Homo sapiens: one gene and its partner. The protein of the gene in region 1 interacts with the protein of each later gene in a pairwise test. Each region holds a gene or a part of one and is shown in the gene's direction. Other genes may lie near its edges.

Region 1 (10,578 bases):
AGTTCTCCCACCTCAGTCACTTGAGTATCTGGGATTACAGGTGCAAGCCACCACACCTGGCTTGCATGATGGTGTTGATGTGCAGGCAATATTTCAAACCACTGCTCATCAGGTAGTCTCCTACTGGGATACATGGGAGGTAAATGTTCTGAAACCTGGGTTGTTTGAAAATGTCTTTATTCTCACTCCCCACACTGGTTCATAGTTAGGCTGGATATGAGATTCTGGGTTGTAAATTATTTTTCTTCAGTATTTTGAATGCAATTTTCACTGTGTTCCAGTTTCCAATATTGCTGTTGAGAGGTTCAAAGCCATTCCAATTACTGATTTTGTATGAGTGTGTTTGTCTTGGTTTTCCTCTCTGGAAGCACGTAGAAACCATCTTTGTTCCCAGAGTTCTAAAATTTCATATGACATGTTTTGATGTAAGTGTATTTTCATCATATTGCAGGTAACTGGTGGTGCTTTTAATCTGGAAATTGAAGTCCTTAACTTCTGGAATATGTTTTTTGTTTGTTGTTGAGACAAGGTCTCGCTCTTTTGCTCAGGCTGGAGTCCAGTGGCGCAATCATAGCTCACTGAAGCCTCAACCTCCTGGGCTCACGGGACCCTTCCACCTCAGCCATCTGAGGAGCTGGGACTACAGGTGTACATCACCACACCTGGCTAATTTTTTAATTTTTTTGTGGAGATTGAGATCTTGCCATGTTGCTCAGGCTGGTCTCGAACTCCTGAGCTCAAGTGATCCTCCTGCCTCAACCTCCCAAAATACTGGGATTACAGGCATGAGCCACCATGCCCGGCCTGATTTTTTTTCATTGATGATTTTCTCCATCTGTTCTCTCTTTCTGAAATTTGTACTACTTGGATGTTACATTTGCAAGACTGGTCGTCTATTTTTCTTTTCTCTTTCCAATTTTCATCTCTCTGTTTGCTCTTTTAGGGAAATTTCTTTAACTTTACCCTCTAACGTTTCCATTAAATTTATTTTCATTTTTACTGTTACGTTTTTAATTTCCAAGAGTTCCTTTTTGTTTTCTGAATGCTCACGCTTCCTCTCCCATCTCCCCCTCATTTGTTTTTTTCATAGCTTCCTGGTCTTGTTTCTTGGGTGCAGTAATTTCTTTTATCAACCTGGAAATCTTAGTACAAATGTTTGAGTGGTTCTCTTCTCCTTACACAGTCTTAGTTTTTGTCCAGGTTGACATTTTTTTGTTTGCCCACTTCAACCTCTTTTTTTTTTTTTTTTTTTGAGATAGGGTTTTGCTGTGCACCCAGGCTGAAGTGTAGTGGCATAATCATGGCTCACTGCAGCCTCAAACTTCTGGGCTCAAGCAATCCTCCTACCTCAGCCTCCTGAATAGCTGGGACTACAGGCATGCGCCACCACACCTGGCTAATTTTTTGTAGGGATGAGGTCTCACTACGTTGCACAGGCTGGACTCAAACTCCTGGGCTCCAAGGATCCTCCCACCTCAGCCTCCCAAAGTGCTGGGGTTACAGGCGTGCGCCACTGTACCTGGCCCTCTTTTGGAATACAGTGTTTCTTGGGTAAATCTTGGATGTCTGCTCACTTAAGAGGAGAAAGACTGAGAAACTGACTGGAAGCTGGGGTGTATGAATACTCCTTTCTTACCCATTTTGTCATAGGATCTTCTGGTTGGCTATTTTTATGGGAGAACCCCTGCTGTCAGCAGCTTTGGGTCTTTTCCTCTCGGGCTGGCTTATTTTCCTGAGAAACTTTTCCAGTCTGCTGCTGAGAGGGTAAAGCAGGCTGGGGACTCAGCACTCAAAATATGGTCACTCGGCTGGGTACAGTGGCTCACGCCTGTAATCCCAGCACTTTGGGAGGCTGAGGCAGGTGGATCACGAGGTCAGGAGTTTAAGACCAGCCTGGCCAACATAGTGAAACCCCGTCTCTACTAAAAATACAAAAAAAATTAGCCAGGCTTGGTGGTGGGCACCTGTAATCCCAGCCCACTTGGGAGGCTGAGGCAAGGAGAATCGCTTGAACCTGGGAGGTGGAGGTTGCAGCAAGCCGAGATTGCACCACTGCACTCCAGCCCAAGCGACAGTGCGAGACTCCGTCTCAAAAAAAAAAAAGTCACTCGAATCCCCCGCCCCTGCCTTTCCCAACACTATCCCCTGTGTGACAGTGCTTGATGGCCCCAGGACAAAGACCGGCTCCAGAGAATAAAATCCCGGCACTGACAGCCACTTCATCACCAAGGCCTCTGAATGCTGCTTTCTAAGAGCCCACAAATGTGGCCACTTCTCCCATGTCCACCATCACTCAGTCCAAGTTGCCATCATCTCTCCCCAGACCGTGGACACAGCTGCCAACGTCTTGCCCTCCCATCATCTCTGCACCCAGGGACCAGGGTGGCTCTTTCATGCCACTTCCCTGCTGAAACCCCTCCATGATTTCCCATGCCCTCAGGACATGGGCCAGCTCCTCCGCTGAGGTCTGGCTTCTCCCTTCATCCCAGCCTCCTTCTGCAGCCCCTTCCTCACCCTCTTGCACCCCTGTCACATCTGGTGCCTCATCCGACTTTCTGGCCTTAAGACACAGCCCCATTAGCTCCTTCTCCTGAAAGTCTCTGCAGATCCTAGCACTTCTCACCCATTCTAAGAGTGCCCGCTCTCCCTGGGGATCCTGAAGGGAAAGTCTGCACCTCCACATCCACACCCTGAGCTTGAGTGCAGCACCCGGCACCCAAGAGGTGCTGAGCTGTACTGTGCCACAGAGATCATTGCCACTTTCAACTCTGACGAGCTCTGTTCTGGGAGCTGGCTGCCTGGGGAAGGGCTCTCTGACCACTGCCACTGACCCCATGGAGTCAGCCACTGGGTCTGTGAACTGGGGCTCTGTCAGCATGAGTGTCCCCCCGCTCCTGGGACCACCACAGTACATGCTGGTGAAGGGCCAGGATGGAAGGGCTACCTATCAGGTGTGCGGGATGCTGAGTGTGACCCCCAACCACCTTGCATGACCTTGATGCGGTGGCCATCCCAGAGAGGACACTGCTCCACCCAGCTGCTTACCTTTCCTTAGGACAACTGTTTGAAAGTCCCTTTCTAGAATGGTCCTAATGGGCATGGCCAGGGAGCTGGTCCCTCATGTAAGTAGCAACTGGGCAGGCTGCCAGGGCAGCTGGAATGGGGCAGTGGAGCTGTGTTCACAGAACGCTTGTCAGGAGCCAGGCACCTGGTGCTTCTCTGCCCACTTAAAGGAGGGCATTACGATCGCCATTGTATAGATGGGGAAAGAGAAGCTCCCTAAGTGCCTCACTCAGGGTCACACAGCCAGAAAGTGTGAGGGATTCGAACCCAGGATTCTCCAGCCCCAGCTGCACGTTGGTAGCAGGAGAAACAGCGAGAGCTTTCTGGCTCTGTGGCTAACCTCACCAAAGGGAATCCATGCAGACAGCTGCAGTGCACACGGTGTTTTCCCCACACTCTGGCTGTTAGTTTTGTTGGCTAAAACAATCATCACCCTGGAGCTGCTTTTCACAGTTCTAGATTGTGGTGGGTTTCTCAGCCTCTCTGCTGGCTCGGGGAGGCTTCGGGAAGGTGGTGGAGCAGGTGCCCTCTTTGCAGGTAGGGATTGTGAAACATTTGCTCTGGAGCCCAGGGATGAATAATGCGGAAGGCTCTCTTCTCAGGATAATGGATTCCAGAATCCCAGCACTGCTCCGGCAGGAGGCGAGGACCGGTGGCTCTGCACTGGCACCCCCTGTTGACCTGGGTGTGGCTCAGCAGCCTTCTCCTCTGGCTTGTTTTCCAGTAACTGGTGCCCCTACCCAATGTCCAAGCTGGTCACCTTACTAGCTCTTTGCAAAACAGAGAAATTCCTCATCCACTCGCAGCAGCCGTGTCCGCAGGGAGCTCCAGACTGCCAGAAAGTCAAAGTCATGTGAGTAGGGGAGGGTGGGCCATTTGCCCAGGCCTGGAGCGGGCCCTCCCTGGAATCACTGAGCCAGCCCTTCTCCTCTTCCAGGTACCGCATGGCCCACAAGCCAGTGTACCAGGTCAAGCAGAAGGTGCTGACCTCTTTGGCCTGGAGGTGCTGCCCTGGCTACACGGGCCCCAACTGCGAGCACCACGGTAGGGCTCCCTGCGGCCCCCTTCCCCCCTTGACCTCTGATCCCCAAGGTCAAGCAGCTCCTCTGACCACTGGGGTCAATAACTAATGCTTTCTTCTGCAGATTCCATGGCAATCCCTGAGCCTGCAGATCCTGGTGACAGCCACCAGGAACCTCAGGATGGACCAGTCAGCTTCAAACCTGGTGTGTTGCTTTCCGGAAGGGGAAGGCAGGCAGGCTGGTGGGGCCCATGTAGCCAGCTGGCCCTTTTTCCTGTGATACAGCAGTGCCATTTCAGGGAAACCTTGCCTCCAGAATCAGCAAGGCCTGCTCTGTGGCCTGTACCACCTCCCACCTTGAAGGCCAGGCTCACAGGGCCCCCAGCGGCCTACTGGCCAAGCACACACACCCTTTTCCTTCACCCCATCTTCTGGGAAGGACTGGTTCATCTGGCACTTTCCTTGCCCCGCTGAACCACACAAGCCCTTGTGCCTGGAAAAAGCATTCTCACCCTTTCCCACAGCCCTAACCAGAGCCAGGAAGTCATGCTGTCCTTGGTCTTGGAGTCAGCACAGGAAACCCACCAAGAGACACCATTTGCAGCAGGGCCCTTTAAGGCTGGGCCCAAGATTGAGAAAGTAAATGAGTTTCATTATGTGGTGAAGTATTTATTGACAAGGGCTGCCAAGAATGAAGTTGTGAGGCCATGTGCATGTGCTGAGGAGGGGAGTGTACCATGATTGATTAGTCATGTCTGCTGTAGGTGTAGGAGGCAGGGTGAGGGCTCACTTGCTATGCATTTGCCCTCCAGGGGTTTAAGGCTTCTAAGCTCCTGCTCAGAGGACATCAGCAGCTAACTTCCCTGCTCTCAGCCTTCAACTCTCCTTCTCTGAACCTTGTGATCTTCCCAGGCCTGGTGAGTTAGCCCTTGACATTTATGTCTGCTGTGTATTTAGGCCACCTTGCTGCAGTGATCAATGAGGTTGAGGTGCAACAGGAACAGCAGGAACATCTGCTGGGAGATCTCCAGAATGATGTGCACCGGGTGGCAGACAGCCTGCCAGGCCTGTGGAAAGCCCTGCCTGGTAACCTCACAGCTGCAGTGATGGAAGCAAATCAAACAGGGCACGGTGAGTGGCAGGCTCTAGGGGCTGAGGAAGAGCCTGGTCACATTGAGGGGAGGAGGGGAGGACCCCGCTGGTCCCAGCCTGGGAGGAGTGTCTGCTCCTGCAGGGCTTGTGTCACACCACATGTCTGTTGCAGAGTTCCCTGATAGATCCTTGGAGCAGGTGCTGCTACCCCACGTGGACACCTTCCTACAAGTGCATTTCAGCCCCATCTGGAGGAGCTTTAACCAAAGCCTGCACAGCCTTACCCAGGCCATAAGAAACCTGTCTCTTGACGTGGAGGCCAACCGCCAGGCCATCTCCAGAGTCCAGGACAGTGCCGTGGCCAGGGCTGACTTCCAGGAGCTTGGTGCCAAATTTGAGGCCAAGGTCCAGGAGAACACTCAGAGAGTGGGTCAGCTGCGACAGGACGTGGAGGACCGCCTGCACGCCCAGCACTTTACCCTGCACCGCTCGATCTCAGAGCTCCAAGCCGATGTGGACACCAAATTGAAGAGGCTGCACAAGGCTCAGGAGGCCCCAGGGACCAATGGCAGTCTGGTGTTGGCAACGCCTGGGGCTGGGGCAAGGCCTGAGCCGGACAGCCTGCAGGCCAGGCTGGGCCAGCTGCAGAGGAACCTCTCAGAGCTGCACATGACCACGGCCCGCAGGGAGGAGGAGTTGCAGTACACCCTGGAGGACATGAGGGCCACCCTGACCCGGCACGTGGATGAGATCAAGGAACTGTACTCCGAATCGGACGAGACTTTCGATCAGATTAGCAAGGTGGAGCGGCAGGTGGAGGAGCTGCAGGTGAACCACACGGCGCTCCGTGAGCTGCGCGTGATCCTGATGGAGAAGTCTCTGATCATGGAGGAGAACAAGGAGGAGGTGGAGCGGCAGCTCCTGGAGCTCAACCTCACGCTGCAGCACCTGCAGGGTGGCCATGCCGACCTCATCAAGTACGTGAAGGACTGCAATTGCCAGAAGCTCTATTTAGACCTGGACGTCATCCGGGAGGGCCAGAGGGACGCCACGCGTGCCCTGGAGGAGACCCAGGTGAGCCTGGACGAGCGGCGGCAGCTGGACGGCTCCTCCCTGCAGGCCCTGCAGAACGCCGTGGACGCCGTGTCGCTGGCCGTGGACGCGCACAAAGCGGAGGGCGAGCGGGCGCGGGCGGCCACGTCGCGGCTCCGGAGCCAAGTGCAGGCGCTGGATGACGAGGTGGGCGCGCTGAAGGCGGCCGCGGCCGAGGCCCGCCACGAGGTGCGCCAGCTGCACAGCGCCTTCGCCGCCCTGCTGGAGGACGCGCTGCGGCACGAGGCGGTGCTGGCCGCGCTCTTCGGGGAGGAGGTGCTGGAGGAGATGTCTGAGCAGACGCCGGGACCGCTGCCCCTGAGCTACGAGCAGATCCGCGTGGCCCTGCAGGACGCCGCTAGCGGGCTGCAGGAGCAGGCGCTCGGCTGGGACGAGCTGGCCGCCCGAGTGACGGCCCTGGAGCAGGCCTCGGAGCCCCCGCGGCCGGCAGAGCACCTGGAGCCCAGCCACGACGCGGGCCGCGAGGAGGCCGCCACCACCGCCCTGGCCGGGCTGGCGCGGGAGCTCCAGAGCCTGAGCAACGACGTCAAGAATGTCGGGCGGTGCTGCGAGGCCGAGGCCGGGGCCGGGGCCGCCTCCCTCAACGCCTCCCTTCACGGCCTCCACAACGCACTCTTCGCCACTCAGCGCAGCTTGGAGCAGCACCAGCGGCTCTTCCACAGCCTCTTTGGGAACTTCCAAGGGCTCATGGAAGCCAACGTCAGCCTGGACCTGGGGAAGCTGCAGACCATGCTGAGCAGGAAAGGGAAGAAGCAGCAGAAAGACCTGGAAGCTCCCCGGAAGAGGGACAAGAAGGAAGCGGAGCCTTTGGTGGACATACGGGTCACAGGGCCTGTGCCAGGTGCCTTGGGCGCGGCGCTCTGGGAGGCAGGTGAGTTCCTGGGCTGGGGAGACTGGACGAGCCTAGGAGGCCAGGGCCGGCTGCCGGCAGCTCTTCTGCCTCCAAGAGGGCCAGGAAGAAAGAGAACAGGATGGCCATCCGTCACCCCTACTAGGTCCACCTTCCCCTTGGCCCACCTGCTTCTCAGGGGTGTGGGTCTCTCAAGCTACCTGGCTTATGGGGAGACAGAAGTCACAAGAACCACCTGCTAGTGCCAGAGCCCGTGAGCGGCATAGCCTGGAGGCCACAGGCACAATAGTGCCGCCTACTGCTCCTGCTACAGAGAGGGCATCGCCTCCTGCCCTGCCAGGGCAGCCTTCAAGTCCCCCCATCTCATCTCTTCACCTCACCCCCTTCATTCCCATGTGCGTTTAAGCCACTGTATCTAGGAAGAATGTGGATAGGGACTGTGGCCACTTGCAGCCCCACTTAGTTCTGTTTCATTTTCCATGATTTTAGTTTTTTTTTTGTTTTTTTTTTCTTTTTCTTTTCTTTTTTTTTTTTTTTTTAAGATGGGTCTCACTTTGTCGTCCAGGCTTGAGTACAGTGGTGGGATCATGGCTCACTGCAGCCTAGACCTCTCCAGGCTCAGCTGATCCTCCCACTTCAGCCTCCAGAGTAGCTAGGACTTACAGGCATGTGTCACCATGCCTAGCTAATTTTTGTACTTTTTGTAGAGACAGGGTCTTGCTATGGTGCCCAGGCTGGTCTCAAATTCCTGGGATCAAGTAATCTGCCCACCTCAGCCTCCTAAAGTGTTAGGATTACAGGTGTGAGCCATGTGCCCAGCCTTGATTTCAGTTTCTTGCATCAACCACGATCAGAAAATAGGTGAGTACAGTACAATAAGATTTTGAGAGAGGGAGACACCACATTCATATAACTTTTATTACAGTATACTGTTATAATTGCTTTATATTTTATTATTATTGTCAATCTCTTACTGTGCCTAATTTACAAGTTAAACTTTGGCATAGGTATGTACATAGAGGAAAATAAATAGTATATATAGGGTTTGGTACTGTCTGAGATTTCAGGCACCTGCTAAGGTCTTGGAACACACCTCAGTGGACTGTACAGGGAAAGCCGTGGGCCCTGAAAGGAGCTCATTCCCTCTGCAAATACAGTTAACCTGTCTCATCGCTCTGTGCTAGTCCCCTTCCTGGGCTTTACCACAATGGCCCATCCCAACAGGTCAATGACACACTCATCAGCACTTCCATCTTACCTGAAACTGAGGCGCAAACACAAGTTTCCTGCTTGCACAGCTAGTGAGCAGCAGAGGAGCGCTGTCTTTAGGGTGCCGGTTCTTCACCTCCAGAAGGCCCTCCATGGCTGGTCCCTGCAGGGCCCTGGGCCTGGGAGCTGGCTTTGAGGCTGAAGGCATGTGCAACCAAGCTTCCCATCCCCTCCCTGAGTGTGGTCCCGGGAGGGGGACAACTAGGCTCTGTGTCTCAAGTGACTCTCTCTGCCAGAGGCTGGCCTTGGAGCTGTGGCCTCTCCCCACCCAGACACAGGGCTAAGTACAAGGCCACCATCTTGGCCATGTGCAGCCTGGCGTGTGGCAAGTCCAAGGCCTTGTTGAAGGTCCCGTCCCAGGCAGCCCCTGCCCCAGCTGACCCTCCCTATGGCCCAAGAGGCAATGTGGAGCAGTGGGAAGCACCCAGGCTCTGGCATCACTTGTCTGTTTCTTCCTCAGTAAAATGGCAGAATCCCTACCCATGTCAAAGTTTTGTTATGAAGACTGCTGCGTTTACCAAATACCTAGCACGAGGCTTACCTCATGTAGGAACGCAGTCAACGTTTTCCCATTTCCCCAGCATTTTCAGGGTTCAGGTTGTGTCCACCGACACTGACACTTCTCTCTTGTTTCCTCTCGTGCGTGGTGCAAGGCTTCAATATGCTGATGACTTTCAGAATTTGCCCCACGGTTTGGAAATGTGTTTACCACGACGATATTTATTTCAAAAAAATGTTGTTCTTAAAAACAAATTTCCAGGCCGGGCGCAGTGGCTCATGCCTATAATCCCAGCAGTTTGGGAGGCCGAGGCGGGTGGATCACTTGAGGTCAGGAGTTCAAGACCAGCCTGGCCAACATGGTGAAACCCCATCTCTACTAAAAATACAAAATTAGCCGGGTGTGGTGGCGGGCGCCTAATCCCAGCTACTCGGGAGGCTGAGACAGGAGAATCACTTGAACCCGGGAGGCAGAGGCTGCAGTGAGCCGAGATTGCGCCACTGCACTCCAGCCTGGGCAAGAAGAGCGAAACTGTCAAAAAAAAAAAAAAAATTAGCCCGGTGTGGTGGCAGGCACCTGTAATCCCAACTACCTGGAAGGCTGAGGCAGGAGAATCGCTTGAACCTGGGAGGCAGAGGTTGCTGTGAGCCAAGATAGCTCCATTGCACTCCAGCCTGGGCGGCAGAGTAGGACTCTGTCTCAAACACACACACACACACACACACACACAAACACACACACACACACACACACACACACACACCCCAAATTTCCCTTTATTTGTTTGTAGGAAGGCTGTAGGGCTTGAATGTGTGCCCTGCAGGGAAGCACACTCTGAGTTTGCACAGCCCTTCCCGCATCTTAGGGCCTGTCAGGCGCAAGGCTGGGTTGGGGTGGGGGTCTCTCTCTGCGGCGGAACTCCCTGCGCAGGCGCCCGGACGGAACGGCCGGAACGAGGGCCTAGCACCGGTAGAGGGCGCTGCGGGCCGGCCTTCCTTCGGCTAGGCAAGAGAACCACCTGCAGGGTGTTAGGGGAATTGCAGAGGCAGCCGCCGGCCTCTGACTTGGGCACAATCTTTTTTTTTTTTTTTTTTTTTTTTTTTTTTTTGAGACGGAGTCTCGCCCTTTCGCTCAGGGTGGAGTGCAATGGCACGATCTCGGCTCACTGCAACCTCCGCCTTCCGGGTTCAAACGATTCTCCTGCCTCAGCCTCCCGAGTAGCTAGGATTACAGGCGCCTGCCACCATGCCCAGCTAATTTTTGTAGTTTTAGTAGAGACGGGATTTCACCATGTTGGCCAGGCTGGTCTCTATCTCCTGACCTCGTGATCCGCCCACCTCGGCCTTCCAAAGTGCTGGGATTACAGGCGTGAGCCATTGCGCCCGGCATTTTTTTTTTTTTTTTTTTTTGACGGAGTTTCACTCTCGTTGCCCAGGCTGGAGTGCAACGGCGTGATCTCGGCTCACGGCAACCTCCGCCTCCCGGGTGCAAGCGATTCTCATGCCTCAGCCTCCCAAGTAGCTGGGATTACAGGTATGCCCCACCACGCCTGGCTAATTTTGTATTTTTAGTAGAGATGGGATTTCTCCATGTTGGTCACGCTGGTCTCGAATTCCCGACTTCAGGTGATCCGCCCGCCTTGGCCTCCCAAAGTGCTGGGATTACAGGCGT
Region 2 (10,578 bases), on another chromosome or scaffold:
TTATTTTTTTCCCTCTGGAAGTCAGTTACCGCTAAGAGTTGCACCAGGCCTGGGGAAGTGTAGGGATTAGATATTCATGCCTCTCCTTTGAGGCTCTGGGTCCTTCATTGTTGAACGCACTGCTTGTATTGCCTCCTGCTGCGACTCACTGGCTCTCACTTCTCTGTCACGGAGGGGGGCTCTCTGCCTTTCCTAGGCGGCTTATAACCTGGCTTCCCTCCTGGGAGCAACCCGCCGCCAGGCCTCTAACCCGACTCCCTCTGCAGTTTACAGGCTGGTAACCTACATCTTTGTCTACGAGAATCCCATCTCCCTGCTCTGCGGCGCTATCATCATCTGGCGCTTTGCTGGCAATTTCGAGAGAACCGTGGGCACCGTCCGCCACTGCTTCTTCACCGTGATCTTCGCCATCTTCTCCGCTATCATCTTCCTGTCATTCGAGGCTGTGTCATCACTGTCAAAGCTGGGGGAAGTGGAGGATGCCAGAGGTTTCACCCCAGTGGCCTTTGCCATGCTGGGAGTCACCACCGTCCGTTCTCGGATGAGGCGGGCCCTGGTGTTTGGCATGGTTGTGCCCTCAGTCCTGGTTCCGTGGCTCCTGCTGGGTGCCTCGTGGCTCATTCCCCAGACCTCTTTCCTCAGTAATGTCTGCGGGCTGTCCATCGGGCTGGCCTGTATCCTTCCTAGCAGAGAGCTATAGAACAACGCATGTCAAAGGGTGAACCAGGCTGGAGGGTCTGGGGTGTCAAGTAGATAAAATTGGGCTTACTTTGTATTTTTTCGAAACAGAGTCTCTGTCACCCAGGCTGGAGTGCAGTGGCAGGATCTCAACTCACTGCAACCTCTGCCTCCTGGGCTCAAGCAATCCTGCCTCAGCCCCCTGAGTAGCTGGGACTACAGGTGTGCACCACTACACCCGGCTAATTTTTATATTTTCTTTTTAGTAGACACAGGGTTTCACCATGTTGCCCAGGCTGGTCTTGAACTCCTGGTCTCAGGTGATCTACCCACCGTGGCCTCCCAAAGTGCTAGGATTACAGGTGTGAGCCACCGTGGCCGAGTCATATCTGATCATAATTTTTTTTTACTTTTTTTTTCATATCTGGTAATTTTTTATTTTATGCTAGACACTGAATGCTGTATTAGGGGCTCTAGATTTTGTTGTTTTCCTTTAAAAAATGTTGACTTTTGTTCTGATAGGCGGTTAACTTACTTGAAGATTGGCTTGAAACTTGAGGTTTGTTTCTAAGCTCTTTTCGGGAGAGTCTAGCATAGCCTTTATTCAAAGGCTGAATCTTTGTGGCTGCCTAATCAGTGGTGGGTGACTTAGGTCAGACGACCAGGATACCACCAAGTTGCTGGGGATGGTGACAGGGTATGGAGGAAGCACAGCCAGAGAGGCCCACATGAAGCTCACATGGTCGCACTGAGGCAGGTGCCCTCTATTTGAGATAAAAGGACGAGGTGTTAGTCCCTCAGGATGATACTGGTACAGCCTCCTGCCTTATCCTGCTACACCAGCAGAGGCATGTCCTGGCTTCTGACTGACTGCAGTGGCTAGAAGGGTGCAAGTGGTGGCACACATGGGTGTAGGAGAAGGGACAGCATTAATACCCCCTGCTGCTGGGCGCATTCATTCCCGGTGAGGCACAGTGAGTAGAAACCTTTGGCTCTGGGGTCAGGCGCAGTGGCTCACGCCTGTAATACTAGCACTTTGGGAGGCTGAGGCAGGCAGATCACGAGGTCAGGAGTTTAAGACCAGCCTAGCCAATATGGTGAAACACTGTCTCTACTGAAAATACAAAAATTAGCTGGGTGTGGTGACGGGCACCTGTAGTCCCAGCTACTCTGGAGGCTGAGGCAGGAGAATGGTGTGATCTGGGAGGCGGAGCTTGCAGTGAGCCAAGATCACACCACTGCACTCCAGCCTGGGCTGCTAGAGTGAGACTCCATCTCAAAAAAAAAAACAAACCTTTGGCTCTGGGTTTCCCCTGAGCTGCAAACTCCAGCCAGAGTGTGCAGCGTGCTAAGCATGAAGGCTTCTGTAGAGTGAGTGGGAACCTGTGTTCTCCCCGGGGAGTGTTCGGCCCTCCTCCCTTTGCTGCCTCCAGTTTCACTTAACACGCCAACCTCAGATGGCCTCACCTACTGCTATTCCATCGACCTCTCAGAGCGAGTGGCACTGAAGCTCGATCAGACCTTCCCCTTCAGCCTGATGAGGAGGATATCCGTGTTCAAGTACGTCTCAGGGTCTTCAGCCGAGAGGAGGGCAGCCCAGAGCCGGAAGTAAGTGACAGAACTCTTAAGTGCTGTTAAATCTTTTTTAAAAAAAAAATTATTTTTTTTTTTTGAGACGGAGTCTCACTCTGTCACCCAGGCTGTAGTGCAGTGGCACAATCTCGGCTCACTGCAACCTCTGCTTCAGGTTCAAGTGATTCTTCTGCCTCAGTCTCCTCAGTGTCTGGGATTACAGGTGCCCACCACTACATCCAGCTAATTTTTTTGTATTTTTAGTAGAGATGGGGTTTCACCATGTTGGCCAGGCTGGTCTCGAACTCCTGACCTTGTGATTTACCTGCCTCGGCCTCCCAAAGTGCTGGGATTACAGGCGTGAGCCACTGCCCCCGGCCAAATGCTGTCAAATCTTATTCTGTTTTTTTATTCTTTTTTTTATTTGAGGACAGGGTCTTGCCCTGTTGCCCAGGCTGGATTGCAGTGGTATGATCATAGCCCGCTACAGCCTCACACTCGTGGACTCAAGTGATCCTCCCACCTCAGCCTCCCAAGTAACTGAGACTACAGGCACATACCATCATGCCTAGCTAACTTAAATTTTTTGTAGGGACAGGGTCTCCACTGTGTTACCAAGGCTGGTCTCAAACTCCTGGTCTCAATCCATCCTTCCTTGATTTCTCAAAGTACTGGGATTACAGGTGTGAGCCACTGAGCCTGGCCTAACCTTATTATTAAAGCAACTCCAGGGCATGCAGAGGGTGTGGCTGGTTTATTGCCGTAAGTGATAAAGAAATGAGGTGCGGCAGATTGGAAAATAATGCACAGATGTCTTCTGAGCATTCTGGATTCTGCACAACTGCTTCTGAAGTAGCAACAGCAGGAAAGGGAAGGCATTTGAGGACACTTAACATGTGATCCTGAGTGACTTGTAGATAGGCTGGGCAGGAGGGCCCCCATCTAATTGACATTAGACACATACCTGCTGCAGGTCAGCCTGGGCTGTGACACACAATAGCCTCGATAAGTGCAGATAGGGCTGGGTGCGATGGCTCACGCCTGTAATCCCAGCACTTTGGGAGGCCAAGGTGGGCAGATCATATAAGGTCAGGAATTTGAGACGAGCCTGGCCAACGTGATGAAACCCCATCTCTGCTAAAAATACAAAAATTATCCAAGCGTGGTGGTGGTTGCCTGTAATCCCAGCTACTCAGGAGGCTGAGGCAGGAGAATCACTCGAACCTGGGAGGTGGAGGTTGCAGTGCACCGAGATCACACCACAGCACTCCAGCCTGGTTGACAGAGCAAGACACTGTCTCCCAAGAAAAAAAAAAAAAAAAAGGTGCAGACAGTCCACACAGCCAACTAGGCTGCTTAGGAGGTGGCCCAGCCCAGGTTTTCTGGTGAGGTTTACTGTTTTCCAGTTGGCTGATTAACTCACAGATGGAAAGTGCTGGTAAGCCGCCAGAGCTTGTGTGGCCTGGCTGCTTCATTTTATAGAGGAGGCCCAAAGAAGACAAGGGTCTTTCTCACCCACTCTGTTTCCAGGTAACAGAGTCAGGAGAGGGGCCATCTGGAAGCACGTCCCCTGCTTAGGAGGCCACCTCCCTCCCTCTCCCCTGTTCCCAGTGCCTCCTGCCTCTGAGTTCTCCGCTGGTTTCTGTCCATGCTGAGACCTCACAGTGTAGGATTTTTTCTTTCCTTCAGTGGTCCTCCCCCCAAAAAAGGAGCTCGCTGGGAAAGGCGTGTTCATCCATTTTGTATTGCTATAAAGAAATACCTGAGCCTGGGTCATTTATAAGAAAAGAGGTTTATTTGGCTCATGGCTTCGTAGGCTACACTAGGATCATGGCACCGGCCTCAGGCAGCTTCCAATCATAGGGCAAGGGGAGGCGGCACCACACATTGAGAGAGGGAGGGAGGTGCTGGGCTCTTAAACACCCAGCTCTTACCTAAACTCAGAGGGAGAACTCATTACTACGGGGAAGAAGCCAAGCCACTCACGCAAGGTCTGCCCCCGTGACCCAGACGCCTCCCACTGAGCTCCACCTCTAGTGCTGGAACACTGGGAATCACGTTTCTTTTTTTTTGAAATGGAGTCTCACTCTGTGGCCCAGGCTGGAGTGCAGTGGCGTGATCTCAGCTCACTGCAACCTCCACCTCCTGGGTTCAAGTGATTCTCCTGTCTCAGCCTCCCAAGTACTTGGAATTATAGGCGCGTGCCACTATACCCGGCTAAAGATCCATTTCAGCACATGATTTGGAGCAGAGGAAACATCCAAAGTGTATCAGAAGGCAAGGTGCTTGGTCCTTGGCCCTTTTTGGCCCGCCACCAGCTGTGGAGTAAATTTTCCCCTGCACGCTGGCCTGGATGTGGGGTTTTTGTTGAATAGGAAGCTGCCCTTAGAGCTTCTTCCAAGAGGTGCTCCCAGCTGTCAACAGCTCAGAGCCCTTGGACTATTTTTCTAAAAGGCCAGGAGGGCTGCTGGGAAAACAGAAATGCGGACTCACCGCATTATTGCTTCAGGCAAGTAATTCCTGGGGTCTCAATGTGGGGGAGACTGTACATTTAGGACTAGGTGTTTTGTGGGTTTTAGTTGTTCTCATTGAATCTGGAGAACTGTCTGTCACCAAGGAATCCCCTCTGTAATAGCTGATGGTGGTCTCCAGCTGTATCTCACATACAAGAGCTCACTCTCCAAGACTGGCCCTGATGAGAAAGTTCTTCCATGCTGAAGGGCCGGGCGCGGTGGCTCACACCTGTAATCCCAGCACTTTGGGAGGCTGATGCGGGTGGATCACGAGATCAGGAGATCGAGACCATCCTGGCTAACACGGTGAAACCCCATCTCTACTAAAAATACAAAAAATTGGCCATGTGCGGTGGTGGGCACCTGTAGTCCCAGCTACTCGGGAGGCTGAGCCAGGAGAATGGTGTGAACCTGGGAGGTGGAGCTTGCAGTGAGCCGAGATCGCGCCACTGCACTCCAGCCTGGGCAAAAGAGCGAGACTCCGTCTCAAAAAAAAAAAAAAAGAGTTCTTCCATGCTGAATTGCAATCAGCCTCACAGACACTGCCACACCCAGTGCCAGGTCTGATCCTGCCTCACTGTGACAGGCAGATCTTAGGGTTTAAGAGGAAGATGGTGTTCCTTCTGTGTTCCCCACGTGACATGGAGTCCAGTCCCTCAGGTCTGGTGCCTGCTGCAGACACTCAGAATATTGTGTTTCAGGCAGCCTGACAGTGGGTCCAGGGCCATGTCATGACACGCATGTTTATTTTGTCAGCAAGATGGCCGTTTGGACAGCTTGTCTCCTCAGAGGCTCTTGTTGATAGATAATTTTTTTTTTTTTTTTTTTTTTACACATGGTCTTGCTCTGTTGCCTAGGCTGGAGTGCAGTGGCACAGTCATAACTCACTGCAGCCTCAAACTTCTGGGTTTAAGCAGTCCTCCTACCTCAGCCTCTTAAGTACCTGGGACTAGAAGCATATGCCACCAGACCTGGCTAATTAAAAAAAAAAAAAAACAATTTTTTTTTTTGAGACAGAGTCTTGCTCTGTCACCCAGGCTGGAGTGCAGTGGCACAATCTTGGCTCACTGCAACCTCTGCCTCCCAGGTTCAAGCGATTCTCCTGCCTCAGCCTTCTGAGTAGCTGGGACTACAGGCGCCTGCCACCACACCTGGCTAATTTTTTTTTTTTAATTTTTAGTAGAGACCGGGTTTCATCATGTTGGCCAGGCTAGTCTCGAACTCCTGACCTCAGATGATCCACCCGCCTTGGCCTCCCAAAGTGCTGGGATTGCAGGTGTGAGCCACCATGCCCAGCCTGAATCCGTTCTCTTTGGGCAGAATTGTCGAGCCAGCCACACAGGCACTGGCAGCTGTGACCTGGTCCCAACGCTCCATCTGGTTTAGAAGCTGCTGTGAGCAGGTCACCCCTCCGGTGGTCTCAGTGGCAGGTCCAGTGTCCTTTCATACAACTCCCTTGCTGCAGGACTGCAACTGGCCCCACCCTCCCTGGGCATCTGTGGTCTGATTGGTTGAGGTTAACCTTTCTCCCACTTGGTACTTAGAGCAAGTCACAGAAAACATCCAAGGCATGTTGTACTAGAAAGCGGGGGCAACCTCAAGCACAAGATGCCATGACCTTGCCAAGACTCGCTGAAGGACCATTTTCTCTCTTGTTCCATTCCAGACTGAACCCGGTGCCTGGCTCCTACCCCACACAGAGCTGCCACCCTCACCTGTCCCCAAGCCACCCTGTGTCCCAGACGCAGCACGCCAGTGGTCAGAAGCTGGCCTCCTGGCCCTCCTGCACCCCCGGGCACATGCCCACCTTGCCTCCGTACCAGCCTGCCTCCGGCCTGTGCTATGTGCAGAACCACTTTGGTCCAAACCCCACCTCCTCCAGTGTCTACCCAGCTTCTGCGGGCACCTCCCTGGGCATCCAGCCCCCCACGCCTGTGAACAGCCCTGGCACGGTGTATTCTGGGGCCTTGGGCACACCAGGGGCTGCAGGCTCCAAGGAGTCCTCCAGGGTCCCCATGCCCTGAGAGAATTTCTAGGGAAGTCATCTCACTTGGCCTTCTGAAGGTCCTCCCTAAGAGTCTCCTGACAAAAGTTACTTATTGAACACCTCTATGTGCCAGGCTCTGTGTTGGGTACTTTGATCAATGCCCCTGTTTCAGTCTCATCTGTACTCACGGCAGCCCTGTGGAGTACGGTGTACTGGCCCAGCTTACAGATGCAGAAAGCGAGACGTTCTGCCATCAGATAAAGTCACGTGGCTCTTTAGTAACACGGACAAGGCTCCTCGCCAAGGAACTCGTGGCAGAAGAGGGCAGCAGTTGGCAGTAGCTGCCGATGTCTGTCCCCAGCTCCACCATTCCTCCCTGTGGCTGTGCCGTGCTCGTGGTTTCAGTGTCCGTGTGTCCATGTGTCTGCCCTTCAGGAGCTCGCAGCTGGTGTGCTTGGCGGTCCCAGGCCTGTGTAGTGTCTCTCCCCTGCTGCGGGCGCCCCCACCCCGATTCCTCTCCCCAGAAGCGGTGGGATGGGCCCCCATGAACTGCAGCAGCATGCTGAGGTGTCCATGTTGTCTGCCTTTGTATAAAGAAACAGCCTCTGACCTGCCGTGCTGGCGTGTGCTTCCTTTGTGGTCTGGCTGGGGAAGAGGGAGTGCGCTGAGATCTGGGCAGTGGCAATGTGTGGTGTGGCGGCAGAGAGGAGAGATGCACCAGGGCCAGGTCAGGCAGGTGACCAGGGCCCAGTGGGTCAGGAATGGGGGTCTCGTGGGGAGCAGGCAACTGAGATGGGTACCAGCAGGAGCCACTGCTGCCCTGAGAGAGAGGGGTGTTGCCAGAGCCCAGAAGCTGGGACTACAGTTAGGAGGGCTGCTGGCAGGGCTGTGCCAAGAAGGACATGGGCACTGCTGGCGATGTCCCTGAAGCAAGACGGGAGAAGACGCTGGCTTTACCACCAGTGTCTCCTGTTGGCCATGTTGACCAGGAACCAGGAGTGAGGGGCGGGGGGCCTCTATGAGACAGTGCAGGGCACTGATGAGTGTGGCTGAGCTGTCACTCACCTGGCCAGCCCTTGAGGACAGCTGGGGCTCCTCACGGCAGGCTGTGTTGAGAAGGCATGCCAGCTGCCTGGTGTTTTGTGGACCTAGTAACACGTGGCCTTCATTTATCCCAGGAGCTGGATGGCCCATTCTAGACTGGCTTTCTGATAGGTTTTAGGTCTTTGGACATGTATAAGACAGAACCCCAAGCCCATCCAGCCTGGTGAGGGTGGGGCCGTGACGGGCCCACGCCTGGGGGGGCCTCAGACATGAGCAAGAAGGGGCCTGCGCTGGGGTGAGAGGGTGTGCCACTGTGTGTGGCCCTGGTTTTTAAATCTCTTTGTTCCTTGGGACTTTTCCTTAGTCTGGCCACAATGCACAACACAGCCTGGAGTCAGCTCACAGTGGGACCCTTTCTCACCCTCACGTGCATTTTGGAAGCTCTGGAGGCCATCCCAACCCCTTCTCCCATTTGCCTGTCAAATCATCCACTAATATGCCCATGTCCGGAAACCATTCACTGATTCTGTGCCAAGCCGGAGGCTCAATGATGATGAGCCCCATGTGCGCAGGGAGCCCCTAGCATGGGGCCTGGCACTCAATAAATATGAGTGGAATGAACGGATGAATAGGTGATGCCCGCCCTTGGGGAGCTCATTGGAGCAGAAGAAATGGAAAATAATTATCATTCAGGCCGGGCTCAGTGACTCACGCCTGTCATTCCAGCACTTTGGGAGGTCTGGGTGGGCGGATCGCTTGAGGTCAGGAGTTCAAGACCAGCCTGGCCAACATGGTGAAATCCCATCTCTACTAAAAATGCAAAAATTGGCCGGGCGCAGTGGCTCACATCTGTAATCCTAGCACTTTGGGAGGCCAAGGCTGGTGGATTACGAGGTCAGGAATTCAAGACCAGCCTGGCTAAGATGGTGAAACCCTGTCTCTATTTACAAAAATTAGCCGGGCGTGGTGGTGGGCGCCTGTAATCACAGCTATCCGGGAGGCTGAGGCAGGGAGGCGGAGGTTGCAGTGAGCCGAGATCATGCCACTGCACTCCAGCCTGAGTGACAGAGTGAGACTCCATCTCAAAAAAAAAAATTAGCTGAGCATGGTGGCACACGCCTGTAGTCCCAGCTACTCGGGAGGCCAAGGCAAGAGAATTGCTTGAACCCAGGAGGCAGAGGTTGCAGCAAACTGAGGTCACACCACTGCACTCCAGCCTGGGTGACAGAGCAAGACTCCCTCTCAAAAAAAAACATTTGTCATTCAGTGCCCTGCAAAGCTGTGATGGGGCGAAGCAGCACTTCAGGGGCGCAGAGGAGGCCCCCAGCCCAGCATGGCCTGACAAGCTGGGGATCAGCAGGATCCTGAGGACCAACCCTTCCATGGAAAGAGAGGGGGGCTGTGGAGGGAGGGTGGGAGGGTACTAACCATGTCCTCTGGCTGTTAGGAGGATGGAGAGCACAGCTCATTAAGCATAAGTGAAAGCATTACCCCCAACATGCTGGAAACCCCTCCCCTCCCATCCCCAGACAGGGCAGGACCCACAGCGGCCAGAGAAGCTTCCAGACATTATCAGTTTCCCTGCTCGGTTGGCGGAGGGCAGCAGAGAAGCAGATTCATGCCCTGCTCGCTCTGCAAACCTCAGGTAGGCTCTGCTCCTCAGCGCGGACATCAGAAGAAAGGCTTGCCCTTATACTCTAAGGCAGTGGTCCCCAACTTTTTTGGCACCAGGGACCGGTTTCGTGGAAGATAATTTTTCCACAGACAGGTATGGGGATGGTTTCAGGATGATTCAAGTGCATTCCATTTATTGTGCACTTTATTATTACATTGTTAATATACAATGAAATAATTATACAACTCACCATAATGCAGAATCAGTGGGAGCCCTGAGCTTGTTTTCCTGCAACTAGAGGGTCCCATCTGGGGGTGATGGGAGACAGTGACAGATGGGTAGACTGGTGCCAGTTGGTGGTCCCTGAGGTTGCGAACCCCTGCTCTAAGGAACTGAGTACCGTGTAGGAAGTTGATTTGCAGGTAATTACAAGGCAAGATAAAGGCTGTGGGAGCCGTGGGTTGAGCTATGTCATTCCTTCACACGCCCATCTGTTTACTGAATCATTCTTTCATTTAAAGAACATGCCGGGCACAGTGGCTCACGCCTGTAATCCCACACTTTGGGAGGCTGAGGCGGGCAGATCACTTGAGGTCAGGAGTTCAAGACCAGTCTGGTCAACATAGTGAAAAACCATCTCTACTAAAAAAAAAAAAAAAAAAAATTAGCCGGGCGTGGTGGCGGGCGCCTCTAGTCCCAGCTACCCGCGAGGCTGAGGCGGGAGAATCACTCGAATCCAGGAGGTGGAGGTTGCAGTGAGCTGAGATCGCACCACTGCACTCCAGCCTGGGCAACAGAGTGAGACTCTGTCACAGAAAAAAAAAAAAAGAGCAGCAACTGTAAATCCAGTGGTCAAGGATGGCCTCCCTGGGAAGGTGACATTTCTGCTGAGACCTGAAGGAATCCAAGAAGAGAAGCAGGTGAAGAGCTTCCAGGTGGACAGGGAGAACAGAGAGCCAGGAGGGAATGGGCCAAGCACGCCCACCCAACATGACAAAGTGGCTGCAGGAGCATGGCACGGGTGATGCAAACAGCAGGTGCTCAATAAATGTTTGTTGCCCTGGACATCTGCACAAGGACAGCGTGGGCTTGGGAGGCCCCACCCATGCTTATTGCTTGGTGCTCTGCGTCCTGATGACCTGTCTGCCTGGCCTAATGGGGAACTCACA

What was found.
Region 2: the proteins of MMRN2 (region 1) and RHBDD2 interact in binary tests that used the Homo sapiens proteins (3 or more experiments, as listed by UniProt).

What each region holds. Positions count from the first base shown.
Region 1 is NC_000010.11:86,938,899-86,949,476, reverse strand, and holds part of MMRN2 (multimerin-2 precursor), read left to right. Parts: intron 1-3,787; coding exon 3,788-3,916; intron 3,917-4,000; coding exon 4,001-4,107; intron 4,108-4,208; coding exon 4,209-4,289; intron 4,290-5,041; coding exon 5,042-5,215; intron 5,216-5,348; coding exon 5,349-7,160; intron 7,161-10,578. UniProt on the Homo sapiens protein: Extracellular matrix protein that plays significant roles in the vascular system and is required for the maintenance and stability of blood vessel.
Region 2 is NC_000007.14:75,881,563-75,892,140, forward strand, and holds the end of RHBDD2 (rhomboid domain-containing protein 2), read left to right. Parts: intron 1-266; coding exon 267-674; intron 675-2,135; coding exon 2,136-2,286; intron 2,287-6,429; coding exon 6,430-6,787; 3' UTR 6,788-7,364; downstream 7,365-10,578.